Regions from separate parts of the Homo sapiens genome. Here regions 2 and 3 are each reported to be linked to region 1. The links are microRNA targets in miRTarBase. Many come from high-throughput screens and were not tested one by one. Region 1 holds a microRNA gene; each other region holds the end of a gene's coding sequence.

Region 1 (10,871 bases):
AAGACCAGCCTGGTCAACATAGTGAAAACCAGTCTCTACTAAAAATACAAAAAGTAGCCTGATGTGTTGGTGCACGCCTGCAATCCCAGTTACTCAGGAGGCTGAGGCACGAGAATCGCTTGAACCCAGATACCAGAGGTTGCAGTTAGCTGAGATCGCACCACTGTACTCCAGCCTGGGCAACAGAGTGAAACCCTGTCTCAAAAATAAATAAATAATAAATAAATAAATAAATAAATAAATAAATAAATAAATCTATTTCTCTTTTCTTTCTCTTAGGTGAGGAAACTGAGGCTCAACATGGTAAATTAAACTTGACAAGGATACACAACTCACAAGGTGTGGAGTCCCACTAGTTTCTTGGACAGTTTCTAAAGTCTATGATCTTTCCACAGCACCCAGCTTGTGGCATGCTAATTGCTTAAGTGCCCCTAGAGTCCAGATGAAGAAAGTTCAGGGCACAAGACTCTGAGAGTACAAAGCACTCCAGAAATAAGCCAGTTGCATTTGTCATTAGCTTTCCTGTCCACATTCCCTTTTCTTAGTCAGGTTCAGTCCATCTAGAACTTCAATTTCAATGGAAACAGAGGAAATGAATGTGGTAGCAGACATCACTAAGCACTCTCAAAGCTTTCTTGTTACTTTGAAATGGTCTAAAAAGCCCATTCTTTCTACCCACTGGGTCCCCACCTTCCCCGCCAAGTCTGTGTTCTCTGTTCGGTTCATTATCAGCACCGCCCACGGCCAGACACGGCCAGGCGGCTTCACAGAAGCCAAAGAGCTTATCAGAAATAAGTACTTTATTTGACAGTGAGGCCAGATGTGCAGAGAGAGGCATTTCAAGGCCTTCACTTCTCTTCTCATAATTAGTCAGCTTCTAGCAATGATGAGAGTCTGAAGATATCGCAAAATAATGAATGACCTTCTCAAGCAGCTCCAATGAGGGAGCGTTGTTTCAGCACCCATCACAGGATTCTAGAATGTGAGCATTGAGGGAGACCCTCAAAATACTGGCTAACCCCCCTTGTAGAGATGAGGATAAATCCACAGAGAAAAGCTATGTCGTCTGTCTGGCCACTCTCTGTGTATCCACTGTGCACCTGCCATGTGTCAGGCAGTGACCTAAACCCTGGGAGGGAATAAATGCAAAAAAGACACATTCCCTCACCTTGACGAAACAGAGCTTCGTGAGAGACACTGACCCATTTATCTCAGGCCCATACATGTTTATTGCAGGGCCTACTAACACTTGGGTCCCCACTGCTCACCAGAACAACAGCTATTACAGCAGCTACAATGGTCCAAACCTATCCTCATATACGTGTCTATAGTTCCCAGAAATCTGTAAAGATTTCTGTAAAGGTCTTTTGTGACTCCAGGATTTAACACAGCATCTCAGGATGTGATGTTTAAGCTAAATTGAGTCAAAAAAATAACTTTTTGTTCATTTTGGTCCAGCGTGATTCATTCATTAATTCATTTGACAAGGCACATTTCCTAGCCCCAATGATTAGGACTTACTGTTGAGGGATAGAGAGATAAGTAATCACAGTAAGTCCCAGGACACTATATGTGGAAGGGAAAGAAAGAATGCAGGTGACACAACTAACTCTGTCAGGAGAGTCTCCCCCACAGCAAGGTACGAATAAGGACCATTTGTTCTAGTCTCCGTAGCATCCTAGCCTATTTCCACTTCCTCTTGTCATCATCTGTCCTCTTCAAAGTTCAAATGGCTCAAGAGGCAGAGATTGTGTCTCTCTTGTCCATTCCTCAGCATTCAGCAAGTGTTCAATAAACATTTGTGGAATGAATATATCAGGTTAGGGACACAAAAACACATTACAATTCCATAATAGAAATAGAAAGTGATGATATGCTTACACATAGGAAGAAGTGGCTAACTCTGCCAGGGGGAAAAAAAAACAGGAAAAATATCTTACATACATTTATACACTCACACACATGCAGCTATTACAATGATAACAACACCATTAAGCAAGACTTATTTGTGGAACCCTAACTATTCAACAGGCATAATCCCAAGAGTTAATGCTCACAACAGACTTATAAGGAAACTAGTATTATTATCCCCATGTTACAGAGGAGATGGAAACAGAGGCACAGGGAAGGGGGGGTGGCCTTTCTGAGGTCACAGAGCTAGTAAAAACAAGAGTTGCAGTATAAATCCACATGGCACCCCCATAGACTATGACCTCAAATCAGGATGGCTTCAGGGAAGAAGGAATGAAATCATTTCTACAAAACCAAAAGCAATCGGCACAGAGCTAGCAGGCCCTGGGAACATAGCAGGCCCCTTCATGCCTCATTCCAATAACCCATGAACCTGAATGTGCAAACCTGCCCCACACCAACAAAAATTTGGTGATTCTCAACCATCTAAAGAGATTTTTTAAAACACCAAAGCCCAGATCCCTCTCTAGATCAATTAAATCTTAATCTCTGGAGTACGGTGGGAGTGGGGTGGATATTAGTAGATTTTGCAAGCCCCTAGGTGACTATGGTATACAGCCAGGACTAGGAACTCCTAGAGTGACTTGTTTACAAGGTACAAAACAGGACTCTGGCAGGAGGAGCAGCCGAGAAATTGCTGAGGATCAGCAAGAGTGCAAGAAAGAATGAGTTGACTGTTTGACTACTGTTTCCCTAGATTAATTATTCATGTGACTCGAAACAGGGTCTCCATCAACTCTGCAAGAACTCCTTGCACACCCAACAGGGCCAACGTTGGCTCACATTCATTTGAAGAGGGTGCCCAACTGTCTGCAACCCTAATGCTCTGCCCAAGAAGAGTTGAAAACCTTGCTAAACTCACTCAACTCTTGAAGCCTCCATTTTCTCATTTGCAAAATGAGAACAATAAAAGCTGGTTCTAAGGGCATTTGTGAGCATTAAAGGGGATATTGATGTTGATGAATTTACCAAAATGCAAAACAAACAGAAAAACATCAGCCTCAGAGAAAATATTATTTCCACCTTGGAAAAGACTGAGTAGAGTAAAGAGTACAGTAGAGACCCAGGTCCAAGCCTGGCTTGGCCTTTCCTAGCAAGTCTAGAAATGACTCTGCCCATGTATTCCTCTTCTGCCAACCAAGGTACCACAATAGCTCCTTCATGCATCCCCCTCATTCAGCAAATGTGTATTGAATGTCAACTCTAATGTTTTGATATAAATCATGGGAGCTAATGTACTCACAAAAATGCTTTGGAAATTTTAATGTGCTCCACAAATAAGAGGGAATCGTTTCTGTTTGTAATGATTCACTGTGAGCTCACAAGTCCCAAAGACTAAGTGACCTTATGGGGTCGCATCACAGTGCAATGCTTGGATCCTTTCAGCCCCACCCCCTCTCAGTAGTAATACAGTCCCTGTGTGGATATCTCCAGTGATGAGATCCCAACCACTGTCAGAGACAGAGCATTCTCTCAGGTTCCTTTTCCTTTTATTAAGTTGCTTTCTGTTTGCCTACTGTTTCTACCTTTCCATTTTGGTTCTGATCTTTGGGGCCACAAGAAGTATATTTGACCTCTTCTCAGCCTTTCACTAATTGAATATCACCACCATCAAGGTCCAGTCTCTACCTCCTAACTCCTCTCCACATCTTCTCTCTGTGAAGCTAAGACGGCCCTAGTTTCCTTGTATTTCTCCATTTGGAAGGCAATAATAGACTGCACCAGACTGGGTGGCTTAAATAATAGAAAATTCATTTTCTTACAGTTCTGAAGACTACAAGTGCAAGATCAAGGTGCTAGTATGGTCTGTTCTGATGAGGGCCCTCTCCTTGCATTGTGGATGGCTCCCTTCTCATTGTGTCCTCACGTAGCAGAGAGAGAAGAGAGACAGTAAGCTCTCTGAGGTCTCTTATTTTGAGGGCACTAATTTCATCACGAGAGCCCCACCCTCATAATCTCATTTAACCTGAATTATCTCCCAAAGGTCCACTTCTTAATACTGAGTACATGGGGGTAGGTTTCATCATATACGTTTGGAAGAAGGAAAACAGTTCAGTCCATAACACTCCCCCACAAAAGATTATCTTGCTAAACAGAAGCAAATCTGATTGAGACATTGACTAAGTACCCACCATGCTTACAAAACATGACTCGTATATGCTGAGGAAATCAATTTGATTGCCCTACCATCAAGACACATATAGTCTAAAGATTGTTGCCATCTACATTTTAGAGGTCCCCGCACCTTAAGACAGAATGAGCCAGAGGCCTGGGTAAATTTGGAATTTACAAATAGAGTCAAAGAAGTCAAGGCAAGAGAAAAACATAGCCCCACCCTTTCATTAGATTTTATTCTAGAGATTAAGACTCCTAAACCAAAATCACAAAATCTCAACCCATTCACTGTTGACTGATTGCCTTCTTTGGACCATGCTGCAGAAATCACAGCAGCAATAAACACGGCAGGCAAATGTGTCAACCCCTGGGGAACTTTAACTTGTTTTCTGCTGTTGTAGTGAGATCAAGTGTGTGTGATTCAACAAGACGGGACATGTGAAACTTCCCTGTACCCCTCAAGCCCAGCACAGAGCCTCATCCAGAGTAGATGCTCAATGATGACACCTTATAAAACAACAAATAATAGCCAAGACCTCTCCTAAGTCTGCTGAGGGGTAGCCACATGGCTTCTTAAAAGTCAGAGGCCATTTGCTATTAAAGAAAGCCATGAGCTTTGCGCAGTGGCAGTATCGTAGCCAATGAGGTTTCACCGAGGTGCGATTATTGCTAATAGAAAGCCACAGATGGTCCTGGAGACCAGAGCCATCAAAACCCTTGTTCTTGTGCGGAAAAGAAGGCAAACCAGGGACCGAACTTGGCTTTTGAAGATGACTCACCACCAAAATCCCAGGTCTTGATGACAGGTTAAATCTTGTAAAACTTTAATTTGGCGAAGAAGTTGGCTGCTGTATTACTCTGTCACATGTCTTGGGAGAGGTCCAGTTTCTGTCACCCTAGCATTAACTGAAAAGCGGGATGAAATATGAAGACATTTTGCAGTTTATAAGAGAAAAGCACCAGGGAGTTTTAACAATTTGGAGAAGTATCATCCTAAAATTGGACTCTAATGGTCACTGAAACCATTGCTGCATTCAGTAAAACTGGGTTGCCTAAAGCTACTGCCATGGAGAATCTAAAACAAGACATAAAGAGGCAGGAATCAGTCACATAGAGGCTTGATGTACAATATGTCCAATGAAGCTTCCACCGGAGAACTGAAAAGCAGTATCTCAGCAGAATTGCAACTTCTGATTTTAGGTTCTTGTCAATCTATTCTAACTCTTAGCAAAAGATTCTTGCTGTTCAGCCTCAGAAACACTTTTATCTTAGTCGACTTTCCTGAAATCATGCTGTATTGAGCTATGATTCTTACTCAAATGTAGTTCCTATGTCAGAATCTCATCAATGAGAAATTTCGCAAGATTGCGTGCCAAAATATCCAGTACCACACTTGCATATTTTTACTTCAAACAGAATTAACACTGCATCTTAGACACAGCGTGGTTTACCCTGCTAGTCATCTCAAACACTGAAGACGGTGACTGTACTACATGATTATTTACCTGCTCAGCTCAGGTTCCCATTGTTCACATTCACATCAAGACAGATCAGCACTGGCACAACCACTGCTTTTATTGGGTATATCAAGTGTTAACAGATCCTTCAATGTGTTTCTCAAAATCTCTGTTGGCCTATGGTAAAGAAAAATAAAATCTATTTTGAAAACTCACAGAGCTCTAGTTAAAGGTTCATTTAATACCACCTATATGTCTTTAATGTCTTTAGACAGAAAAAAAAAAAGCTTTACAGTTCAATTAATGTTTCCCCTTTGGGTGCAATTTAACAGGGAGGGCTTCAGAAAAAGAATGAAAGAGGGCTATTAAACACATTTCTTATATAAAGATACTTGTTCTTATGCAGGACATATAGAATAGGACTTTTTTGTAGCAAATATTTTAAACAAGAGATATTTTGTTATGTGATGCTTTTTTAGCTGCAGCTAAAACAATTTTTAGTCGTGGAAATTCTGAAAAGCTTGTCATTTCTTTTATTATACTTACTAGAATATGATTACTTTTGTTGAAGGACAATATTTTCCCCTCTTTTCCTTACCCTGTGGCCCCCAAAAATGTTTCTGCTAATGATATAAGCAGATTTCTAATACTTTATCTGCTTTTAATCTATGAAAATTAATATTTGGATACTTCATAATTATCTTGATTATGTCACTTGATAAAACAGTGATAGGTATTAATGTTAGTTCAGCCATATATTTATACTGCCTGGGAATAGGTGGCTGCAATTGTGTGGCGAGCATAATTTGGCAGCGTTCACTAGCTTGCAAAAACCTACTGCAAGAGCTTAAACATCTACATGAACACTGATATGAAAAAAGCATGTAAGCCTGACCATAGCTTCTAGTTCCTAGATGGACCTGGCTGTGTTTTTCAGGCCCCAACCTGCAGGGAGCCCCTTCAATCTCATCAGCTGAGTGGGCAGAATAAAGACATCATGCCTGCACATGCTTAGCATTGTGCCCAGCATGGTCAGGGATTGATAAAAACACTTGTGTATTCTCTTTTTATTATCATCACCACCATTATAATCATTACTGAGAGATGCATCCGTAGAGACATCATGTCAGAGAGAAGCAGAGGAACCCAGAAGGCAGCAATGAAACTAACATTTAGAAGCAACACAGGTGATGGGGCAGCCCAGAAAGCTGAAGACAGAAACCATTTCGGAGAATTAGCTGCAAAAGAAGTAGGGAACAGGCATGAGAAGGGGACAGTTCTTTCTGGAGCTAACTCAGTGAACACACCAGAGCCTGTGGGAACATACATTTTTGCATCAGTTTCCTCATTGATAAATTGGAAGAAAGGTACATGGTAGAGAAGGTTACATTAGTCGATATTTGTAACAAGTCAGGGCACATAACAGGCCCTCACTCAAGAGAAGACACTTTTGTTCTCACATCTCCCTTCTTAAATTAAGGAGCATCTGCCCTGTATACAATCCTGCACAAAAATAAATCCACGTAAACAAAATTTCACAGTAACTACAAAAGCCTAATGATCATTAAAAATTCCTGGGAGAAACAGATGACCGTTCACTAATTAATCGGGTTTAGATAAATCAAGCACCACTTAAAGAATCACTGCTCCTTAAAGAGGTAAATGCAACGATTGTCACATGGCCAATTTCTAATTTTTCATTTCTCTGGGGAGACCAAAATGATACAATCTTAGTAATAAATTTCTCCCTAAAGTTTCTGAGGACAAACAATTTCCAGCCTCCTCAGACAAAGGTAAGATGAGTCAACTAGCATTACTGTCAACAAGTATGAAATGTAGGCCACCTTTGTGTCTACAACTAACATACTTTGTTAAGGATCAGATGTAGGACAGTGGTTTGTGGAGTGAAAATTAGGTGGGTGTCCACTGGGCAAGACATTGCACAGCACTGCCTGTGCTGGAAAATGCAAAAGAGAATAAGCTGGATGGGAGTACATCAAACCTAAACCTACACGTGTAGAATCACACTCATGCATACAACCCACATTCTTACTGTTTTCCCATTATCAGGAGACATCAAAAAGTAAAAGGTGTCTCATACCTTCCAAACACATTTCCCAGAAATGTCTGTTAACAGGAAGTACATACCCTTCACAGAATTTCTCCCATGTGTAGATAAATATGTATGTGCACTATATTGTTCTGTCTTGCTCCTACAAAAATGGGCCAATTCTATACAAATGGTACTACAACTTATCTTTTCCAATTGATTGTGGACACCATCCCATATTAGTACATATAAATCTATCTCATGGTTTGTATTTAGGTTTTTTTTTTTTAGTTTTTATTTTAAAATAATTTCAGATGTACAAAGTAAGAGTTTAAAAAACTGAGAAATTCCATTTAGCCTTGCAACTTCTCAATTTTGACATCTTATATACACAGTACAATTATTTAACTGTGTCAGGAAATTAACTTTAGTACAATACTATTGCCCAATCTAGCAATTTAATACAATATTATTGCTTAGTTGCTCAATCTAGAGACGATATTCAAATTTCATCAGTAACACTTTTTTCCAATGCAGAACGCAGCCCGCAGTCATGCGTTGCAGTTACAGTTGGAGCGTGTCCCTTCGTCTCTTTTAATCTGAACTCATTCCTCAGTCATTCTTTGTCTTTCATTTTTAAAGAGTGCTGATCAGTTGTTAACTAGAATGTCACTCCATTTGTGTTTGCCTGATATTTCCTCCTTGTTAAATTCAGGTTATAGTTCTGTCAAGGATAGCACAGCAGCAATGGCTGATTCCAGGGCTGGACCAGGCAAAGTGTACACTGAGCCTAGAATATCTTGTGGGGTCAAAAGGTAAGGCAGTGCTCAAAAAACAACAGTAAAATGGCAAAAATACATAGAACCCAACTTGAAGGGCATCCCAATGTAAAATCTAGAAAAATCTGAGCACAAAATGTATTATAGTCATGGGTTATAACCAATATAATGAGAATCCAAGAGTCCAGACTGATTTTTAAAAAATTGCATTTTTTCAATATAAAAGAAAATATCTTCCTTATAGTAACATTTTAATTGACAAATGTAGGAGTAATGATGGAAGTAGAAAATCACTGTTTGGCACACACTGTAGTAATAACTGTTTCAGACAAGAATTATCCACGAATGCTAAAATTAGTTTGGTGAAAGTGTGATGAGAAACAAGATACTTACATAGGTCCAAAGCATCTCCTGACAAGATACTTATTCATTACACAGAAAAAAAAATAGAAACTTTACAGTAGAGAAATCTGGCAGACATCACCTTAATCAAGTGATGGAAGTAAACATCATTAGTAATGTGACAAGCCAACACCAGGTGCCTCCTGATCTGAGGCACTGAGAAGGACACAGCATCTCATTCTTTATAGTGGCAACTGAGCATTGTACTGTTGACCAGCTAGGCTGTCTTCAAGGTTCTGATACATTACTAATGCTGTTGAATAAATATCTTTTGAAACTTCCCTCACTATTTCTAGGGTACAGACTCCGAGAAGTGGGATTGCTGGGCCAAAGGGTGCATATACTCTAAACTTGGAGAAGTCCTGCCCAAATTTCCCTTATCTTTTTATTATTATTATTATTATTATTATTATTATTATTATTATTATTATTTGAGACAAGGTCTCACTCTGTCACTGAGGCTGGAGTGCAGTGGCGCAATCTCAGCTCACTGCAACCTCTGCCTCCCAGGTTCAAGTGATTCTCCTTATTCAGCCCCCTGAGTAGCTGGGACTACAGGCGCGCACTACCACATCTGGCTAATTTTTGTATTTTTGGTAGAGATGGGGTTTCACCTTGTTGGCTGCTTGGCCTCGAACTCCTGACCTCAAGTAATCTGCCTGCCTTGGCCTCCCAAAGTGCTGGCATTGCGGGTGTGAGCCACCACACCTGGCCTTGAAACGTCTTTTAGAGCTGTTGGTCCTGTTCATCACCCTCCACCTTTCAGCAGCAGTGTGTGAGAGTACCCACTTTCTTTGCTAGCACTCAGCACTACAAGCCACCAGAATGCTGAAAGCTGGGGCAAAGGAAGCCATATGTGGCTGTGTCAGCAGCTGGGCAGATGCAGGGAGTACAGCAGGAGCCAGACAAACCGAGAGTACTGGATGCATCCGGATGCAGAGGGATGTTCTGAGGTTTAACTAAGTCAGGGCTCCAGGACACACTGCAGTCAGCAGAAGGTACATGTACAAAAGATAGCAGGGGAAAGACGACAAGACTAGGGCATATCTGTTGGATGCTATTTGAGAGGTTTGCTATTTAGAAATGACCTAAGAGCTTAAACTTGCACCAAGCCCCACCTGGCCCAGTCTCCATCCTTCAGTCACAGCTCCTTAAAAGTCTAAGACAGGGGTGTCCAATCTTTTGGCTTCCCTGGGCCACATTGGAAGAAGAAGAATTGTCTTGGGCCACACATAAAATACACTAACACTAACGATAGCTGATGAGCTTCAAAAACAAATAACAAAAAAATCTCACAAGCTTGGTCTAAGACAATACAAATGTAGTAGTGAGGTTTCCCAGTCAAACTTATTAGTGATAGTTGCCAACCTTTGTGTTGTAACTTTTTTTTTTTTTGAGATGGAGTTTTGTTCTTGTTGCCCAGGCTGGAGTGCAATGGTGTGATCTCCGCTCACTGCAACCTCCACCTCCCAGGTTCAAGCGATTCTCCTGCCTCAGCCTCCCGAGTAGCTGGGATTACAGTCATGTGCCACCATGCCTGGCTAATTTTGTATTTTTAGTAGAGACGGGGTTTCTCCATGTTAGTCAGGTTGGTCTTGAACTCCCAACCTCAAGTGATCTGCCCTCCTCCACCTCCCAAAGTGCTGGGATTACAGGCGTGAGCCACTGTGCCCAGCCTGTGTTGTATTTTATAATCAATTTCATGTCACTTTATGTGGACTTCGCAACAACATAGAGAAAGGCATTGTTACATTTACAGGTAACAAAGACTGGAAAATCAGAGAGGGAAAGTAACTTGTTCAGGGCTGCACAGCTGCAAAGTGAGGCAGGTAATTGGTATTCGAAAGGCTACTTCAGTGGTATCTGGAGACTAGTCTATCTCCTGGCCCAGGCTTCTCCCTGTAGCAGGACCACTGTTGTCCTAACGCCACAAATACATTATCTCATTTCATCTCTACAGCCATCTGATGAGATGGGTACTACTGTTAGCTCCATTTTACAAATAGGAAAACGGAGATTGTGCCCCGGGCTTTGCTACCAGTAATGGGTGGGCTCAGGACTCTCTCGGCAGAGAGGGAAGTGAGGGGACAAGGCAGA
Region 2 (10,664 bases), not on the chromosome of region 1:
CAGGTGAGGCAAGTTCTAGTTTTGCGGGGGATAATGGGGTGCAGAGTAGATCCCAGGGTCAGGGAGCCTGGATGGCAACTTGGAGGAGAGATGGCAGGTCAGAGCAGGGGGAACAGAGATGGAGGTAAGGAAGATGGTTTCTTCAGAGGTCAGGACCAAGGCCAGAACTGGCTGATGGTCATTTCCTCACACAGGGAGGTTCACCCCTCATGCTTACCCTGGAGTTTACACAAAATCCCCCCACCACAGGCACAGACTTAGTGAACTCCCCCCATGCAAGGCCTGACTGTGGTCCTCTCTCTGCAGTCCACATCACTCTGGATCCAGACACAGCCAATCCGTGGCTGATACTTTCAGAAGATCGGAGACAAGTGAGGCTTGGAGACACCCAGCAGAGCATACCTGGAAATGAAGAGAGATTTGATAGTTATCCTATGGTCCTGGGTGCCCAGCACTTTCACTCTGGAAAACATTACTGGGAGGTAGATGTGACAGGAAAGGAGGCCTGGGACCTGGGTGTCTGCAGAGACTCTGTGCGCAGGAAGGGGCACTTTTTGCTTAGTTCCAAGAGTGGCTTCTGGACAATTTGGTTGTGGAACAAACAAAAATATGAGGCTGGCACCTACCCCCAGACTCCCCTCCACCTTCAGGTGCCTCCATGCCAAGTTGGGATTTTCCTGGACTATGAGGCTGGCATGGTCTCCTTCTACAACATCACTGACCATGGCTCCCTCATCTACTCCTTCTCTGAATGTGCCTTTACAGGACCTCTGCGGCCCTTCTTCAGTCCTGGTTTCAATGATGGAGGAAAAAACACAGCCCCTCTAACCCTCTGTCCACTGAATATTGGATCACAAGGATCCACTGACTATTGATGGCTTTCTCTGGACACTGCCACTCTCCCCATTGGCACCGCTTCTCAGCCACAAACCCTGCCTCTTTTCCCCATGAACTCTGAACCACCTTTGTCTCTGCAGAGGCATCCGGATCCCAGCAAGCGAGCTTTAGCAGGGAAGTCACTTCACCATCAACATTCCTGCCCCAGATGGCTTTGTGATTCCCTCCAGTGAAGCAGCCTCCTTATATTTGGCCCAAACTCATCTTGATCAACCAAAAACATGTTTCTGCCTTCTTTATGGGACTTAAGTTTTTTTTTTCTCCTCTCCATCTCTAGGATGTCGTCTTTGGTGAGATCTCTATTATATCTTGTATGGTTTGCAAAAGGGCTTCCTAAAAATAAAAAATAAAATTTAAAAAACTGTGCCTCCGTCTATCCCATTCAGTCCTTGTTCCTTAATCCTGAAATACTTGAGAACTCTGAATATGATTAATAGTGATGTGTCTTTAACACTGCACGTGCTTTTCATGCCTAGACTGTCCCATTTGAAATGTTTGATCTTGGACTGAAGACCCAGGTCAAGTCAAGTCTTCTGTACTTCCCCATCATTGCCTTCCCCATCATAGCCGCTGTGGTGATAGAAGGCCATTTGGGCTCTGATCGCTGTCCGAGGGGATATTACCTCCTTACCATGAGGGAACACCTGCTTTTGAAATACAAAGTTCTCCTGGGGCTGGAGTAGCTCTGTGACCTCTGCATCTCTGACCCTCACAGACCTGAAGCACCTTCTGTCCATGTTCTCAGTAAGTGACGAGTGACAACATCAAAGTTCTTGGAGCTCTCTGGGGCTTCCCTATGCTTTCAGTGTTCTAGACAACTGGCCAATTCCTGTGCCCCTTGGAATATCCAGTTTTAATGTTATTTCTCTCTGGAATGCACCTTTCTTGGGCAAAGTTTTCGGACTTTTCCAGAAGAGTAAATGTTACATCCGCTAAGGGATAAAGAAAAAGGGGGTGTGTGCTGTGGGTGTGACCACATCCCCAATCATGAGGAAGGGATTTGGAGCCTGAAGAAATGTGTGTCTGTGTCAGCATGTGCTCACATTCGGCAGGTGAGGCCATGAGTATTAGGAAGAAAGGGACCATCTTGTCTTCCAGAAGCTTCCACTGCAGACGATGAGGTATCCTTTCAGGCAAGGTGAGGAGAGACTTTGTGTGGAGGTAAGAAGAGAACACAGCAGCAAAGAGTAAGTGAAGCATGGCTTCATCTTCTTCCTGTCTCTATGACCAGGCTACCTCCCCTAAAACTCCTGCCCCGGGCCCCACGCCTCCTACTTGAATGGTTTGGACGAGGAAAGAAGAGGTTGAAAGGATATGGAAAGAAAGCCAAACAAAGGAGCTGTCTAAGTTCCTGGACACAGCCACTAACAAGCCCTCTCTAACATGTGCAGCTCAGGCCTGTGCCCCAGGGCTGGGGCTTTGGGATGGGAAGACAGACAGACAGAAGAGGAGCAGGAGCTGTAGCAGGGTCAAAGATGCGTCTCTGGGAAGGGAAGGGCCCAGCATCTGACAGCTTCTGCAGACAGATCCAGGAGCGTGGGGGTGGTCTCAGGTGTCGAAGTAAAGGATGAGACATAGACTCCCTCTAGAGTGTCCCCATAAGTGGGTCGTGGCAACTTTCTTCTCCTACCTTCTTTCAAACTCAGAGCATCTCTCATTGTTGCCACTTCCCCCTCGGCTCTCTCTGACAGAAAAAGCCATTCTCCCTGTTCCCATCCCTTTCCTTCCAGATTTAGACTTCTCAGCCCTGGATGATTCTGCCTCATTCCACCCACCCTAACCCCTCTTCCTTTGAACTACTCCCCAACACACACACAGACACGTGCATGCGCACATGACACATCCCTGGCTCTCAACCCACCTTGTTCTTGGCCTCAACTTTGACCTAGATCTCAGAGGGCTACCAGTAGATCCTGTCAAGGTCCCACCATGGGGGTAAAGGTCAAAGCATAGAAGCCTGTGGAGCTGGTCTCCCTAAGTCTCTTGCAGGAATTGTCCAAGCCTGGTGAGGGACCGCAGGTGGGGAGGTTAAGGTGTGGAAGGAGCTAGAGGGAGTTAGTGCCTGCCCAGGGGAGTGTGGGTCACTACTCTTTCATTATCACATTAGCAAATATTTAGTCAGATGATAATACTCAATACTGGCAAGATGGACACATTTATCCTTGCTGGTTGTGATGTAAATGGATGCAAACATTTCTGGAATCATTTTGTCAATATGTAATAAAGGCCTCAGAGATTTCCATATTATTTAATTTAATAATCCCACCTCTGGGAATCTATCCTAAGGAAATAACTTGACATTGGGAAATAGCCCTATGCATAAAGATATTCTTCAATGAATAACAGTGAAAATTGGTTATAGCATTAGTGATCAACAATTAGCACTACTGTCCATCTAGTCAATGGAAGACTACACAGCCATTTCAAAATAAAATTATTAATAACATGGGGGAGATGCCCATGACATATTCAGTGAAGACAGTTACACCAAATTGTATAATTTCAGAAGGTGGGTCATAACTATGTTAAAACAAAATGCAAATAAATTTTTGAAATCGCCTTTATCCTAGCAAACTAATGCAGGAAGAGAAAACCAAATACCACATGTTCTCTCTTATAAGTGGGAGCCAAACACAGGGTACTCATGGACATAAAGATGGCAACAAAGTGGGGTCTACTAGACGAGGGAGGAAGGGAGGAGAGCAAAAGTTGAAAAACTAACTGCTGGGTACTATGCTCAGTACCAGGGTGACAGGATCATTCATACCCAAACCTCAGTATCATGCAGTATACCCAGGTAACAAACTTGCACATATATCCCTGAATCTAAAAAATTGAAGAAAACTCACCTTTGTAAAGATTATGACAGAGAAATCTAATGTGGCTGACTCCGACTTGCTTCTAGCCTCACAGGATGGCTGTCTTCATTCATTCCTGGGCATAGGTCAAGCTAAACATGGGAGGAATTTAGTTTCTAGTTTAACTTGGAAGCAAGGATGATAATAGTCCTTTCTTAAAACTAACCCCCTCCTTGCTCAGGGTCCAAAACCTAAAGAAAGGCCACAAGATTAGGATTATGGGAGGGGCCTGAATTCTGCTAAAATGTGAGTGTCATTTCTATAATTCCTCACTGCTTAGGAGTCTGTGCTGTGCTGACAGCCACCACACCCAACCTTAGGTACCCAAGAGATAATGACATGGGAGATGTCAGCTCCATATGCGCTTGTGGTAGATTGTGGAAGGCCCTACACGCCAGTCTTCTCCCCTACATTGGGAAGTTTTCCTGTTGGCCCAACAGTCTATTCTTACTTCCTTTCCCCAGGAGCCCCATCTTGTATCTTCCTGTCTAAGTTCCTAACTAAACTAACACTTCCCAAGCAGAGATGAACTAAAGTCTTACAGCTCAGATTGCAACTATATTTTAATCCAAAGTCTATGGAAGATCTCACTGGTTACTTGACCCTTATATCTTCTTCTTCTCATCCATGTGTTTTCACTCAACATCCCCCATACTTGCCACATGATATTCATCAACATTCTCCTTGTATCCCTAAAGGTGAAGGAAAGGGCATCCCCTTATTCTTTCCAAAGAGGACATAATGATATGGAACTAGAAGCAGGGGTGAGGGAGTTTAGAGATGTTTGCAACTACCTTAATGTTGTGGGATTTATATTTTAATATTTAAATAGATTATATTAATTACCATAGTATTCAATTATTTGTTGGAGATTCATCTGAATTTAGCAGATGCTTAGTAAAAATGTATGGAGTAAACTTTGGAGACACCTTGCCTGAGATGGTGTGCACAAGAAAGTTAAAAAGTTCTTCAAGAATTTTTGCTCAAAATGAGTTGAGACTTAAATCTAAGACCTGAAACCATACAACTCCTAGAAGAGAACATGGGGTTAGGAATATCAATCTAAATAGGTGTGGTGGTCTTTTGATATGCCACCTTGGTGGCTAGCTATAAGCCCCTAGTTATTCAAACTAACCTAGATGTTGCTGTGAAGGTATTTTGTAGATATGATTGAAGTGCATAATTATTTGACTTTAAGTAAAGGAGATTATCCTATGTAATCTGGGTGGGCCTAATTCAATCAGGCCTTAAAAGCAGAACTGAAGCTTCCCTGAAGATTATATTCCACCTATGAATAACAGCTTTAACTCATGCCTGAGAGTTCCAGCCTACCTTCCATCTGCCTGCCCTATGGATATACGACTTGCTTTCCCAGCCCCCACAGTTGTGCAAGTGAATTCCTTGCAATAAATCTCTTAATATATATCTACTACTCTTTCTGCTTCTCCAGTTGAACCCTGATTGATATGAAAGCCAGGACTGAGGTAACAGCATCACCTGGTGACAGCATACTTTAAGTTTTTAAGGTTGGAACAATAAAGCTCTAAACTTGAATCACAGTAGACTGTGAGAGAGCCCTAGCATTCCAGGAACTCTGATTCCTTATCTAAAATAGAATCTCAGGTTGCCCTCAGCACCATTTCCACTAAATATTTCATGAAAAATTTAGTTACTGTACAAAGAAGTCAGTGACTTTGAAAAGACTTTATTGATCAAAGAGTTGCTTCTAAGGATGAGTAATGGTCTATCTTTTAACATAGGACAGAAAAGAATCCTATGAAGAAAAGATAAAAAGAACAGAAAAGACCCAGGTCTTAAATCCTCAGATGACAACTAAATCAAGATAAATGACAAAGTCGACCAGTTCCTTGGGTAATAAACTGGAGCAGGAATATGGAAGAGAATTCATGCTTATGCAAATGAGATGTACTGGGGAATGGTGGGCTTGTATTTGCTAGGTTCATGGAGAAATATGAAGAAAAAGAAGGGTAGATTATAAAATCAGCTTTTCTGCTTCTCTATGTTTCTGCCTTCGAGCTAACCAGTATAAATGATGGTTTGCTCCCTTTCATTGATATACTGATGAGAGGAGACTGTCAGAATGATATCAACCTAAATAATCTCAGTTCTCAAAATCTGAATACCTTGGGATATCAGGTTACCTTTATACTTGGAGATATACATTATATAGATGATATACTTCCCTTGGTCTCCACCAAAATAAACCAAGTAGTAGAGATTTCATAGAATCTCAACTTTTACCCCCACCAATAGTCACTAACAAGTAATCCAGGTATACCTTTGCATGTCACATAAAAGTTCTCCTGAGAAATGAGGAAAGACTCTATCAGCACTAATTCTAATTCTCATTAATATTGCCCTTTAAAATTCAAACAAACTAGTTGAATTTTCTAATCTCTTTTGATTCTACAACTTCCTTTTGAATTAGGAAAAACAGATATTATACTACAATTTTAAAGATAAAGTCAGTAAAGCAGAAAAGAAAGAAAATTTAAAATGTATCCACTGCTTATTTTGTCTCATGTATATTCAAGGTCCTGTTCATACTTTATTTTATTTATTTTTATCATAGGCCTATGATAAATGTACAATCAAGACAATCAAGAAATGCAATGATTATGATATCCTCCCATATCTAATTTAAAATAATATATTTCAAATGATATCAAATATATCATTTGATTACATTACATTACATTAAGATAGAGTAATCTTAATGTAATCTTAATTACATGAAGATAGAGTCTATCTAAGTGTTTTAACTGTAATGCCCTAGTAAGTAAAGTTTTCTTATGGTTTAATTTGGTTATTTCTGTTTTGATAGTCCTTTTTCTGGCACCCTAAGGATGTGCCAGGAAGAGTCTCTAAGAGAATAAGTAACTTACCCAAGGTCAAACACACTGTTATAAAGGAAGCCAGGATTCAAACCTAATCCTGATCCAAAGCTTATGTTCTTCCCTAAACACTATACTTTTCAAGGTCACATGACAATCTGATTTTCAAAGTCATGATCAGTCACTTTATCCATAGTCAGTGGAATCTTAATTCGTAGGTCTCTGCAAAGTAGGCAAAAAAAAAAAAAAAAAAAAAAAAAAAAAAAAAAAAAAGCAAAGCCCTATAGTGATAAACATACTATCAGATTAGTCAAATCTAGCATCATTTCCTCTGTGAGGACAAAAGACTGAGCACACACTCTTGAATCTGCCTGGTGTTGATCCCATAAATGATGGGGTTCAGCATGGGAGGAGCCAACACGCAGACATTAGCCAGCAGAATGTGTGTATGGAGAGGAACATGGTGCCCAAACCGCTGGGTAATTATGGTAAAAATACCAGGCAAGTAGAACATGGAAATGACTCTGAGGTGGGAGCCACATGTGCCCAGAGCCTTTTGCCGAGCTCCTTGGGGAGGGGAGGTGGAAGCCTGTATACAGGATGAAGCTATAGGACACTAAGATAAGCAAGGCATCTAGCACTACAGTATAGAGAAGGACAGACAAGCCATACCAAACATTGACATGAATATCAGCACAAGCAAACTTGGCAACAGCCATGTGCTCACAGTAGGTATGTGGCAGCAGATTGCTATGGCAGAAAGGCAGCCGCTTTACCAGAAACACATCTGGCATGATCACACAGAAGCTTCTCAGGACCACAGCCAAGCCAATCTTTGTGATTTTTGCACGACTGAGCACTGTGGTATAGTGCAGTGGATCACAGATGGCCACATAGCGGTCAAGTGCCATCGCCAACAGAATTCCTGATTCCTCGATGAAGGTAGCATGGATAAAGAAGATTTGGGTAACACAGCCACCAAGGGATATTGCTCCAGCATAGAACCAAAATATGGCTAGGGCCTTGGGCACAGTGGTAGTAGACAGGATAAGGTCAGCCACAGCCAGCATGCAGAGGAAAAGGTACATGGGTTCGTGGAGGCTGCATTCAGTGATGATGATGAAGATGATGAGGCTGTTCCCAAGGAAAGCAACAAGGTAGGAAATAAAGAAGGGGAGAGACATCCATGTGTGCTGGTCTTCTAAGCCAGGAATGCTCAGCAGAATGAAGAGTGAGTGGCTGCTACCAGTGGAGTTGTGGGTTGTCATGCCCAGGGAAGGTCACCTGAGCATTGGTATGTAGGATTTGGCAGTTACCTCTTCTCTCTTCCCAAGAAGCTGAATGGGGTTGGAGTAGGGAAGGAGGGAACAGATTATTTTTCACTGGATGGAGCAGTGAAAAGGGTCCTGTTGAAGAAGTCAGGGGATGTGGTCTAAAATTCTTTGCCATTCTATTCATGAACTATGTGATCTCAATAAAATTACTTCCCTGTTCTGGATGTCTCTTTTATCACCTTAAAACTAAAGTTAGGGACAGAATGGATTACATTATTCGTAAAAGAGAAATTTTTGGCTCTAGAATTCCATAGATCTCAGTCTCAGGTTGTTGTAAATGCTTACAAGCTGCGAATAACAAGCACTTCAATTTCCACTTTGAACACCAGAATGTGATGTGAATCTCAAAAGGAAAGTGGCAACTGAGTTACCTATCAATTTAATACGCCTTACTGAGTACGTGCCAGGCATGGTTTCTTGAAGACCTACTTGGGACAGTCAGACAATCAAGCAACATGGCTACCTATCTAATATGCACACTGTAGAAGAAAAGCTAAGCACAGGGAGCTGTGGAAAGAGGAAGAACTCCCTAGGCATTCGGAAAAGACTTGCTAGAGTGCTGCCTTGAAGAATAAATAAGAGTTCGCCAAGTAAAGAAACATGATGAGGGAAGAACTTGAATGAAGTCATAGAGATCTGAAAAGACATAGGGTTTGGAGGAAAATTATAATGATGCAGGGTTAGTGCAAAGAGGACATGAGAGGGATAATAAAATTGTAGAAAATAATACAAGGGACTGAAGTAGGGGCCAAATCATTGAGAGATTTGAGTCCTACTCTAAGGGCTTTAGATTGATGTTGAAGTAGTGAGAGTCACTGAAGGATCTGTAGTGAGAGAATGGCATGGTAAATTTACATTTTAGGTAGCTTTCTCTCCGGCAGTATTGTGTAAGATGGATGGGGAACGGAGGAGACTGGAGAATGAGACAGGGATCATTTAGGAGGGGTACTGTGCTGCAGGCTTTATGTGCATTATTACAGTCACCGCAGCCTGAGATAACTGTTGTCATTTCCCCCGTTTTGCTGATAGGGGAGCACACAGAGCTCTGAGAATTTAAGTAGCACCCCTACCCAAGGTCGCTGGGCTAGCAAATGATGGAGCTGGAATTTGCCTTTCCAGACCAGGTTTTAATCACTTCATGTCTGCCCTATGCCACTCGATCCCATTCATCGGGTGATGGTGATTTCCTGACTGCTGGTTCAAGGAGAAAAACAAAGTCGGCAGTTATAAATTCCCTTAAATTCCACCGCCTTTACTCTGCCACCTACAAATTTATTTGTACTCAAGTTGTCCTTTTCCTCTTCCTCCTGCTGGAGGCTAAGCCCTCCATCTGTGCACTGACGCCCAACCCTTCTTTTTTTCTGAGTACCTCTCCCCATTAGTTGGTCTCTCTCCAGTAATTTTAACCTCTCCCTCTCTCTTTGTTCCTCGTTCTTACTGAGCAAATATGTTCGGGTGTCCTGTCTCCCCTTCACCTCAGTGTCACAAAAGGAAGGATGTGCTCTCTCTTCAGTAATCCTCTCACCTCCCTCTTGATCTTCACCCACTGCCATGGTACTGATAGCCCCAACATGCCACAAAAGTTTCTTTCTCTAAATAGTCATGATCTGTCACATGACTATTGCCCAATCTAATGTCACTTTTCATTTCTTATCATTCATAATCTTCAATTTCTGTTACTAATACTTCCTAGCTTTATAATAGCAACCATTAAATACCTACTGCATATCATATATAATTATTATTTCTAATCTTCACATCAAATCTGTGAAATTGAAATTATCACTAGTTTATTCACAAAGAAACTGACAGATAATTTGCCCAAAGTCAAACAACTTGTTAGTAGCTAGCAAAGCTCCCATCAGTATTTAAAACTTCCATTTTGTTATATTGATTACCTAAACCGCCTTTCTTGGGCTTCCACCCCACTCTGCTCCAATTCTCCTATTTATGCCACAACTTCTAAAACATGTAAGACAGTGAACATAGGAAAAATAAGAGCTTTCAAATCAGACCTACCTGGGTCAAATTCCAGCTCTGCCAGCTGAAAATACACACACACACACACACACACACACTCTTCCATTCAGGTGCATATTTCACACATGTTCATTCATACACTCACCATCCCACATATTCACTCTCACAAATTTTAATGAAGATTTACATACGGACATTTTTACAGTTTACACAAACAGCCCTTCACTCTGACACTTCACATACGCATGCTTTTAACATTTCCTGCATATATGTACCCTCACAAATTCACACATAGTCATTAACTAACCAAACTCACTCCCACACGGAGAATTTATGACTTATCTAAGTCATCTCATTTTGACTCCCTCTTACCCCTGCCTCCAGTCTTAAAATCCCTAGCCTATGCCAGAAGAGGGGACTGTCACAGAAACACAATTCACAGGACAACACCCCTGAGCTTCCCCAGTTTCACTCTTGAACCTCCTAACCTTGAGCGAGAGACATAAAATATATGGGCTGGGACTTAATTCCAGGGATCATCAAACTTCAGCCTATGGGCCAATTCCTGCCCATTACCTGCTTTTGTAAATAAAGTTTTATTGGAACACAACCATTCCCATTTGTTTACATATCATCTGTGAGAGCTCTTGTGGAGACCATTTCTGAAGCCTAAAGTATTTACTCTAGGCCTTTACCAAAAATGTTTCCCAACTCCTTCTTTAGAATAATCTTGTCACGTA
Region 3 (10,871 bases), not on the chromosome of region 1:
CAGGCTCATTGGCCATCCAGACAGCAAACAAACTAAAGGGAAAGAAAACGTGGGTGAAGCCTCCAATGTATCTGCAGTGGAAGACTTGAGTCCTTTCAGATAAGAAAAGTTATGGAAATTCTTAGAGATTGTTGTTATTGTATAGATACTACCTATTGGCCAAATGCACTTAATTTTAATACAGTTGAACCATTTGTATGCAAGTCATGGGGACATGAAAAACTGAAGCCGGTGTTCCCTCCCGCCATTACACAGGAGAAAGTTAGCTACCAGAACAGTTGCCTTCAACGAGAAGGGAGGGGACGAGATTCTGAATTTAAGAATTGTAAGTGGGGGTGCTTAATATCCCCACAGCTGTCCAGTTTCCACTGTCCGGCTTGATTTTTGGACAGGAATACTATTCTGAGAAGATGCTCCGTATTTATTCTGGCCTCTTTATATTAAATAAAAATCAAAATAAAACTAAAATAAAATGAGGCATTTACATTGAAATCATGTTTTTACTCCCCCCATTTAAATGAGGTGTGGGGGGAAAGAAGGTGAAATAATTTTTTTTTTTGTCCCCATAATGAGTCCTGTTTGATTGGTAGCCTGGATCCCTTGTTACAAACACTTCGTGTTCAAGATTATATTCTTTGGGTTTATAGGAACAGGAAGTGCTGAAAATGTCAAACATCATCTCTGAAGAAAAAGAAGTTGCAATGGCTTAAGAGTTTAGACTAAGAAGGGAGCTCAGAGAAGTACTTTCAGCATAGGAATGAACAGTATTCTCAAATCGCAGAATACCGAGTTCCCCTCCCTCAGACGAGGGCTATATGTAACAAAAATAACAATAAGCATAGGTATAGTTTAAGAGCCTTTTACGTAGTAATTCTTCCAGGCCATAACCATACAAATCTGATCATTTAGACATGACAAATTTCTATATACAAAAAAACATGTAACTTTCAACCCTTCTCTGCTTTTTTTTTTTTACAAACAAAGTATGAAACTCATTGTTTCAACAGAGCCATATCTTTCAAACACTGAATGAATCATTTCGACATTCATTTTTCTTTTGTGCAATTTTTTAAAACATTACCTGTACTCCTCAAAGTGAGTGCTTCAAAATTTTGTTTTCTTCAGCTTCTCAAATCAGGTGTACATTTAAAAAAAAATTCCCACAAGGTATAGTGCTACAAGAAAAGATCCTATCATCAGTAAGGTAACGTATTTGAAGCGAGGTCATCTATGTAAAAGAAATCTCAGCTCCGGAGTAGAGGTGTGCAAGTTGTTTGGAGTTTCCCTATGCCAGAAACACAACACTGTCCGTGGAAAAGAGAGGAAACCAACCCAACACAATAGCAGATGCATGTGCTTTATAAAAAAGTATATTCTCTGTATATTTATTACTTGATGTGTTCTTAAATTCTCTATTTCAGAAATTCTGGGTTAAAAACAAATGTGGAAGCAAAGGCCTCCACGCCACTTAAAAAAAAAAAAAGTGTAATTCTCTCCTTTCACATCACCACCGAAGAAACCGAATTGGGCCATGGAGTCTGCTGGCCCTGTTTTCACCTGGTGCAAATTGAAGTGCAAAGGGTTTCAGAAGGCAACAGACCAGTCTGTTGAGCTGCTTGTGGTTCATGAAACAGTAGCCATGACAACCAACACAGCTCAAGAAGCCCGGCCTTCGGTACCGAGAGCTCTGCTTCCTCACCCATATCTGAAATAGCACGGTATTAGTGTCTTCAAAAGCATTGGAGATTTTTCTCTCTATGAAAGAAATAGGTTTCCTTAGTAGTCACAGATGTTAAAGGGTATTGTCAATCGTTTCCTTAAAAAACAAAACAAAACAAAATCCAGAGCTACAACAACAAAAATAAATTTTGGCAACATATTTCAGTAAAGATCAAACTGTGCAAAGAGTGGATTTTATGATTACTAGGAGCTACTGTTCATCTTGAACATGCAGCATTATATTGCAATCTATGCGGTATCTAAGGAGTAATCCACAAGATGCAGGAAATCCAAACATTCCTTGAAATTGTACAACCCTACTCCAGAGCAGTCAAAGTGCTGCTTCTGGACACGTCAGTGTACCACACACACACCTGCCCCGTCCCTGAGAAAGAGGTGTGAAAGGTTCCGCAGAGTCCCTTTAGGGGAGAAGGAGGGATGCTGCCACTTCCTGGTGGGGGGAAAAAACCCAACACACTCACCTAACAGAAAACATAGAGGCTCACAATTCCAAGTTAGAAATGGGATCAACAACAACAGAAATCAAATCATCCCAAACTAAACTGGGTGAGTTAGGGAAAACGAAAAGTTGACCAACATAGAAAATTATCCTGAAAGTCCAAATGAAAATTCAATTTGGATTTCCACTTTAAAAGATCTGAGGTAAGTGGCATCCATCTCTGTATCCCTCCCTCCCCCCTCTGCCCCAGTGTGGCCCAGACAAACTGAAATAATTCTTAAGTTAAACATTCTAAGGAACAGTCATTTTATATATTTAGAAATCCCTAGAAAGAGAGGTTCTTGTTTGTTGGTTTCTTATTAATAGTATTATTTTTTTCTTTTCGCCCTGACTAATTTCTTGGTGATTGTGTTCCATTGTAAACGCAAAAGGCCTGCTGTTACTAGTTTAAAAATGGAAAACAGGAAAGAAAGAACAAAAGACGGCTGTCGGTAAATATTGCAAAGTGGACATAGTACAGAGGCACATGGCTGATCCTTGTAAGCTGAACGGCACCGAAGAATTTCTACCCCTGTCATCGTTAATGTTTGCTACACAGAAGCGGTGACAGAGGCTGCTCTGGGAGCCTCGGGGCCCGCCAACGTCTGCAAACAGGAGGCTCCTGCCCTCTGTGCGTTCTTCCTATTTGAAGAGAAAGCTGCCACAAGGGAGTGGTGACCGTGGGTGGCAGGTGGTCCCCTCCACAGCCACTGGCCAACACGCTCAGAACGCACACACACAACAGGCCACACTTCCCGTCCAGGCTCAGAGGCAGGGCTCCAAGTCTCAAGGACACAGACCCCGAGGAGGGGCCTGCCCACTTGCAGAAAAGACCGTGGAAAATGGGTTGACTCCAGGCTACATGGCTCCAGAGTGCGTCTTAGAAATGAATCTGCCTCCTTCCTCTCCACACTCCACATTCACTATTCCGTGTGGTGACAGGGGACACTGCGGTTCCTCCCCCGGGTCTCCTTGGCTGGCTCTTTCTGCAACGTGGCGGCAGACGCACGGGGCTCCTGAAGGCTCCCCGCCCCAGCACTCAGCATCCGCAGCAGGGGAAAGGTGGGAGGCTCTCTCCCTCCTGGCTCCTTCCCTCCAGCCCTGCTCTGGCCAGAATGGGGAAGATCAACCAAACAAGGAAAAAGCCAAAAGGGAATGAGCTTTAACTATATAGCACACTGGTCAGACTCTATTGGCACAGAAAGTATTGCACATGCTAAAAAAGCAAGAGAATGAAATGGGACAAGTGTTTAGAAAGAACCAATTATTTTATAATTCCTATACCTGAAATAGAACCACAAAAATTATGATGATGTTCCTATTGCTCCAAACCATGTGTGTTTTCCCATCTTAGTGTTGGTTTAGTGGATCCAGTCAATTCAATACTCGAAGTAAGCCAAAAGGTGGTGTGTGTTTTTCTGAGTCCACATGAGTTGTAAATAGTGATATTAATGAGAACAAAGTCTATGTGGCAGCCCGTATTCCTCTTACCATCAAAGGCTAAAAAACAAAAAGAAAAACAAAACCTAATAATTGCAAGTGCCCTGAGCAGAATATATGGAAGATTAAGCAAGTTCTCTGAACAGAAACGTTTAAAAAATACAGCACTAAATAAGCAGTATGACTGCAAGAATGAGCCCACCCAGCTCTCTGCAAGCATGCTGAGAGGGTAATGAAATTCGAGGAAAGTCAAGGAACTATTCTAGCTATTCTAAACCTATTCAAATGTTTTTGGTACACCCCAGAAAACGGTTTATAAAAATCATTAGTCCTGGTGAACCCTAAATGTAAATGAATACTAGACAGCCAAAATGTGGGTTGATACCAGATTTTTTTTTTAATTTGTGAAACGAAGAAAGTACTATTTTCAATGGGGTAAAAGAAAAGTCAGGTATTTGTTCAGTTTAGTTGCAGCCATCCAAGTAAGAATATTTAAAAATTTCTCCCTACTTATAAAACTTTTTTTTAAAGCACTTTAAAGATGCATTCAAAACCCACAAATGATATTTCGGATCTCTGGGAATGAAAGGTTTAAAAACTATGAAATACCCTTTCTGGGTTTGTACCAAACATTAAATCTCGATTTGATTTTGAATAGAAAAAAAAAAGCCATTCTGAAAATAACATTAATAACAACAATAATAAAGTAATTGTTTAAAAAAAATCTTGCTCACATATATAAATGTCTTTATGGAAAACTCTCTCAATGAATCTGAAGAAAATTCTCAGAGTTTCTAAGAGCCCGCTAAGACCTGGCTTTTTGTGACAGATGTGGTAAAAAGACCAAAATGAATTTTCAAAGGAACATAACCTTATAAAATGGCCTAGAGTTTAGGCAGGTTAGAAAGAAATTTTGCTACATTTATTTATGCTCGTTCAGTCCCCCAAACCTTTCCCACAATGTTATTGGATAAAAACTGCAGGAATATCACACAAGTTATAAACTCAATATGTGCAAATCGCAAGGTTCTTTAAAAGTTCATCTTAAAAAGAAAAACACTGGACAAAAATGAGTATTCTCTTCTCCATCCCTTTTCTCTCAGTTTCTCTGCCAACTCTGCATATGCCTTGAACTGATTCTCAGACATCAAAGTGAAAAGTGCCTCCCGTCAGGTAGTACTTGGTGGTCATTTATTGTCACATACTAGTTCATAATTCACATTCATCCCTTTAAACCACATTGAAACTTTCAATATCTTGCTCTTCAGCAATTCTGCAGAGCTGAAATGTAGTTACAGTGTTGAAAAAAAGAAAGCAACTTAGTTTTTTTTGTTTTTGTTTTTTCCCCAAAGAGTTTAAAGTGAGATACAGTACTTGTTGAATGAGAGACCAAGATGCTTGGTAATAAAGTGTGAACAGTATTTTTAAATGCTTAAAGATAGTAATATATGCTCATCTTCAAAATCTAATTCCTCATGTCACACTGGAATCTGAAAAAAAAAAAAAGTGGCACCCGAGTTGTCCATAGTCATGAACTATAAACAGTACTAGAGTTCAAAGACAAAAAGATTTCGCAAACTCAACGTGAAGAGCTTCTGTTGCTCTCACTGAAGGGCAGTTTGCATCTACCTCTTGGGAGTGAAGTCAATGCAATAACCTGATTGGTTTTCCTAACACTGCACAGAAACCAGCGTGGGTGTTCGCTCTCTCCCTCTCCCCCACCCCCAACCCCCCTTACCCCATGTGGGGCCATGACAGCAGGGGCTTCCCTGTCCACCACAACACCCTGGTGACATCGCTGCACTAGTAAAAAGCAGAAATGAAATCCCGCATGTGGCAGTTGCTCTTTAAAAAAAATATATATCAGTGCAGTCAGGCCCCATAGGGGGAAATATATATCTATACAATTAAAAGTTGCTTTTATTGTAAAATATGTTGGAGAGAAAAATGTTCTTTTAAATGGTTAACTTTCCAAATCTGCCATCTGACGCGTCTCCGCGATGCCCTGAAGCTGGGTTCCTGATGTTGATTTTGCACGTGGGAACCCCAGGAGGACACTGCTCTGAACCCCCCCGGCCCATGCCGATAGCAAGAGAGTGAGGCAGAGGGAGGCAGAGAAAAAGAGACCCTCACTCGCCGCCACAGCGCCTGTGCACCCCCACATGCGTGCAACCCTGCACCCCTGCAGGACCCTTCCCACGGGACTTTTCTCCTGACACTAGCGGGAGTCAGCGCCCCCGGCTGCTTCTGTGCCGCTAGAGAAGGCAGGCACTGTGAAGCCCCGTTCCTTTCTTCCCCGGGGATGCCTGGAGCCCTGACCGCTCCTGCTGTGCCCTTCCTCCCGCCCGCTCACTGACAGACACTCGTGGAAAAAGCATATGCACCAGTCTCCTGCGACACACCTGCTGTAACTCTAATGACAAGGTTAGAACAGAAACCTAAAATTAAGAAGATAACATGTAAATACTGTGTTATTTTAGCCTACAGTACAGTAATCTGGATACAAATGATAAGGGAGAGCCACGTTTCCTTTCCCCCACGCTGCCTCTACTTGCCTACATTAGACCGGCCTTCAATGCAAATCTTAACCTCCTGAGGAATTAGAGAAGGCTTAGGAAGAGTCAAAGGTGGTTCGTCTTCTGACTTCTCCAGTTTGCGGCTCTCTGGCGCCGACCACCTCCTCTTCCTCGTTGCCGCGGGCTTGCTGGGTTCTATTTTGGTGAGGAAGGGCGCTGCAGGCAATCCCATTTTCTCTGGAAACTTCAGTTCGCCATTCTCAGAGAGCATCTGGGCACTCCCCTGGTTGATTCCGTTTTCCTGCTCGGCATACCTGTGTCTGCTGCCCGCCAGGCCGTCGGCCTTTGAGTGCTTCAGCAGGACGCTGGCGGGATCCACGGGCTGGCCCTTTTTAACAGAGCCGTTCTTCAGGTTCTTGAGGGTAAGCGAGATGCAGACATCCCCAACTGAGAGTTTGGAACACGGCAAATCAAAGAGCTGGCTGGTTCTCTCCGGACAGCAGGATGACCAGCCCTGTCCAAACACAAAAAAAGGATACTCTACCAAAACTTCAACGCTGACCTGTGGAAACAGGGAGAGACAGAGAGAGGAAGAAGGAAGGGAACAAATGAAAACATTTTATTCTTGTTTGATTTTATGCACACACACAGGTATGAACTCACACAGACACACACAGGCTGAATGGGGGAAAATGACTCAGTTTGCAAACCTCCCTCTCCCCCAGCCACACACTATAAATGAGGCTCTTCTCTTTGGGTTGTACCTCTACTTGCCATAGGCAGAAGCCAGTGAAAAGGTCATCAATATTCAAAATATTCCATCAAGTGTTAGCTCTATAGCTGGTCTCTGTTAGAACCAGTCAATCGAACCCCAGTAATGACAGAGCACCCACTTAGCTTTCAGCACCAAGCTAGGCTCTGCAGGTGGCTCACAAGCCCAGCGCGGTCTTAGATTTTATGAGCTCAATGGACAACTGCTATTATCATACAGGACAGGACTAAACATGGATCAGAGTGAGACTGTGAGTTCCAAGAAGCAGGCACAGTGTGTTTATCACTGAGTCCCCAGCCCCTAAAAGGATGCTTGGTGGCTGGGCACAGTGGCTCATGCCTGTAATCCCAGCACTTTGGGACACCAAGGTGGGTGGATCATTTGAGGTCAGGAGTTCAAGACCAGCCTGGCCAACATGGGGAAACCCCGTCTCCACTAAAAATAAAAAAAAAAAATTAGCCATGCGTGGTGGCGGGCACCTGTAATCCCAGCTACTTGGGAGGCTGAAACACTAGAATCACTTGAACCCAGGAGGCAGATGTTGCAGCGAGCCGAGATCGTGCCACTGGGCGATCCAGCCTGGGCCACAGAGTGAGACTCCGTCTCAAAAAAAAAAAAAAAAAGTCAATTTCCAATGTCCTTTCTAGATGTAGTAGACTAGGTAATTTGGACCAACCCTCCTTCTGAGGACAACTAAAAACTCTGAACAAAAATATAAGCAAACAAATAAATTTAAAAACTCTGGACAAAATGTTTAAACTTTTTTTCTTATAGTACTGGACAGCAAATAAGATAGTAAAAAGGCCAGGCGCGGTGGCTCATGCCTGTAATCCCAGCACTTTGGGAGGCCAAGGCGCGTGGATCACCTGAGGTCAGGAGTTTGAGACCAGCCTGGCTACCATGGCAAAACCCCATCTCTACTAAAAATACAAAACTTAGCCAGGTGTGGTGGTGGGCCCCTATAATCCCAGCTACTCAGGAGGCTGAGGCAGGAGAATCGTTTGAGTCCGGGGGACGAAGGTTGCAGTGAGCCAAGATCGTGCCACTTTACTCTGAGACCAGCCTGGCCAGCATGGTGAAACCCTGTCCCTACTAAAAATACAAAAATTAGCCAGGTGTGGTGGCAGGCGCCTATAATCCCAGCTACTCAGGAGGCTGAGGCAAGAGAATCGCTTGAACCCGGGAGGCGGAGGCTGCAGTGAACCGAGATCATGCCACTTCACTCCAGCCTGGGCGACAGAGTGAAACTCCGTCACACACACACACACACACACACACACACACACACACACACACACACTTCCTGGGTTGGATCAGGAAAAGATGATGGCCCAGAGAGGTGAAGCTGGTGTTGGGGGCCTGTTTTCTCCTGAAGGCACTTGAACATTCCAAAGTGGAGCAGTTGGGAAACCAAGTGGGCTTTTGATAGTGTTAAGAGCATAGGGAACAGGTAATGGAGTTCAGGATACACCAAGGGAGGGTGTTCTCTGGTGAGCCCCATTCTTTTGAGTTGTGACCCCAAAGCACTGTCCCTTAGAGGAGACAGTGAACCACAAGCCAACAGGCCTTTCAAGGTCTGAAGCTCAGATTGACTCATCTGAGTCCCTAAAACTGGATTAAGGTCTTGAATTACTTTCACAATTTTGCAAATAAAAGCATTCAATTTAAAAAAGGGGGGTGGTGGTCATGAGGAGACCAGATAGCTTGTATAAGCACTAGCAAAATATCAGATCTTAAAAAAGGATGCACCAGGGCTTCTCATATAGAGTCATACATATAGACTTTACAAAGACTATGCTTACAATAATTAAGAAGATTAAAGACAGCTTGAGAATTTTGATAGGAAACTAGAATCTGTTTTTAAAAGATCCATGAAGCCAGGCATGGTGGCTCATGCCTGTAATCTCAGTACTTTGGGAGGCTGAGACAGGGAGGATCACTTGAGGCCAGGAGTTTCAGACCAGTCTGGGCAACAAAATGAGACCCCGTTTCTACAGAAATTTAAAAAAAAATAGCCTAGTGTGGTGATGCGTGCCTGTAGTCCCAACTACTCAGGAGGCTGAGGCAGGAGGATCTTGAGCCCAGGAGTTAGAGGTTGCAGTGAGCTATGATCACAAGACTGCACTCCAGCCTGGACAACAGAGTGAGACTCTGTCTCTAAAAAAAAAAAAAATAAATAATAATAATAATAATAATTAATTAATTAAAAAAGGTCTATGAGAATTGTAGAATTAAAATATACACCACTGAAATCAAGAATGCAATGAGCTTTCCAGTTGAATAGACATGGATTAAGAAAGAATTCAGGAACTGGATTCTCTAATTAGAGCTTTAGAAGAGACTCCACAGAGTGAACATAGAGACAAAAAGATGGTCAATATGGAGGAGAGGGTAAGAGACACATAGGATACATTGAGAGGGGCTAACAGACACATAATTTGAATCCTAGGAGGAGGAAGAGAGGGAGATAATAGGGCAGAAGTTAATACTTGAGGAGGTAATGGCTAAGAATTTTCCCAAACTGAAGAAGGATAATAAGACAGTTTCAAGAAGGCCTAGCCCCAAACAGGAAAAATAAACAAAAAGAAATCCTCACTGAGGCAGATGAGAATTAAACTGCTATAAATCAAAGACATCTTGTAAACTAAACAGGAAAAAATATCGTTAAAAGCCTCTAGAACAGGCTGGGTGTGGTGGCTCCTGCCTGTAATCCCAGCACTTTGGGAGGCCGAGGTGGGTGGATTACCTGAGGTCAGGAGTTTGAGACCAGTCTGGCCAACATGGTGAAACCCCATCTCTACTAAAAATGCAAAAATTAGCTGGGCATGGTGGCAGGAACCTGTAATCCCAGCTACTCGGGGGGCTGAGGCAGGAGAATCACTTGAACCCGGGAGGCGGAGGTTGCAGTGAGCCAAGATCGTTGCAGTGAGCCAAGATCGTTGCAGTGAGCCAAGATCATTCCATCACACTCTAGACTGGGCGACAATAGAGAAACTCCATTAAAAAAAAAAAGCCTCTAGAACAAAATACATATTATCTCCAAATAAGCAACAATGGAACTCACAGTTTACATCTCAACAAAAATAATGGAAGCCAGTAGACAATGGAGACAATGGAATATCTTTACAGTGCTAAAGAAAAAGAATTGTCAATGGCGAATTCTATATGGAGCAAAAAGATCCTTCCAGAATGAAGGCAAAATAGAGACATGTTCAGACAAACAGTAATTAAAAGAATTCACCATCAACAGATCTGCATTATAGAAAATACTAAAAGGTATTCTTTAGGTAGAGAAAAAACAAATCTAGATTGAAGTTTGTACAGGGAGGAATGAAGAGGAATGAAAATGGTAGATACATGGTGAATCTGAATGAATATTGGCTATATGTAACAATATTTAAAATATTGTTGGATTCTTTTTTTCTTTTTGTGAGAGGGAGTCTTGCTCTGTCGCCCAGGCTGGAGTGCAGTGGCGCGATCTCGGCTCACTGCAATCTCCGCCTCCCGGGTTCAAGCGAGTCTCCTGCCTCAGACTCCCAAGTAGCTGGGACTACAGGTATGCACCACCACCACCACGCCCAGCTACTTTTTGTATTTTTAGTAGAGTGGGGGCTTCACCATGTTGGCCAGGATGGTCTCGATATCCTGACCTCATGATCCACCCGCCTCAGTCTCCCAAAGTGCTGGGATTACAGGCGTGAGCCACCGTGTCAGGCCTCCATTGGATTTTATACACATTCAGACACACAAAAACACACATGCATAATTGAAGTACCAAAAAAACTTTAAAAGTAGTAGATTTCCACAGATTGTTGCTTTTCTACTTCATCTTCTTTGTTTCCTTTGTTAACTCTGATTGATCTAGTTCTGATACATTTCTAGAATGACAGACTTTACTGGATCCATACAAGGCATATTTTTAGAA

What was found. Region 1 holds the annotated microRNA hsa-miR-1206 (UGUUCAUGUAGAUGUUUAAGC, at 6,389-6,409, opposite strand). A microRNA usually pairs through its seed, bases 2 to 8, with sites in the 3' UTR of a target mRNA and lowers its output. Matches are read on the target gene's strand: a 7mer-m8 pairs with bases 2 to 8, a 7mer-A1 pairs with bases 2 to 7 and ends in A, and an 8mer does both.
Region 2: the mRNA of TRIM21 is a reported target of hsa-miR-1206. Seed matches in the 3' UTR shown: 7mer-m8 at 947-953.
Region 3: miRTarBase lists ATXN1 as a target of hsa-miR-1206. Seed matches in the 3' UTR shown: 7mer-A1 at 1,935-1,941 and 7mer-m8 at 1,622-1,628.

The regions. Positions count from the first base shown.
Region 1 is chr8:128,004,439-128,015,309 of GRCh38, reverse strand. It overlaps MIR1206 (microRNA 1206), which reads right to left and starts at 6,412; the gene lies at 6,354-6,412. It overlaps PVT1 (Pvt1 oncogene), which reads right to left. Exons shown (of 9, transcript NR_190187.1): 5 at 5,592-5,720; 6 at 4,866-4,992. It also overlaps the pseudogene RNU4-25P.
Region 2 is chr11:4,375,496-4,386,159 of GRCh38, reverse strand. It overlaps TRIM21 (tripartite motif containing 21), which reads left to right. Exons shown (of 7, transcript NM_003141.4): 6 at 1-3; 7 at 307-1,263. The coding sequence ends at 875. It also overlaps the pseudogene OR52B3P. Among named protein-coding and RNA genes, the nearest start is that of OR52B4, 12 kb to the right of the region's middle. RefSeq lists an enhancer at 1-495.
Region 3 is chr6:16,300,124-16,310,994 of GRCh38, forward strand. It overlaps ATXN1 (ataxin 1), which reads right to left. Exons shown (of 8, transcript NM_001128164.2): 8 at 1-6,736. The coding sequence ends at 6,206. Among named protein-coding and RNA genes, the nearest start is that of GMPR, 67 kb to the left of the region's middle. RefSeq lists enhancers at 2,969-3,548, 5,457-5,576 and a silencer at 9,797-10,005.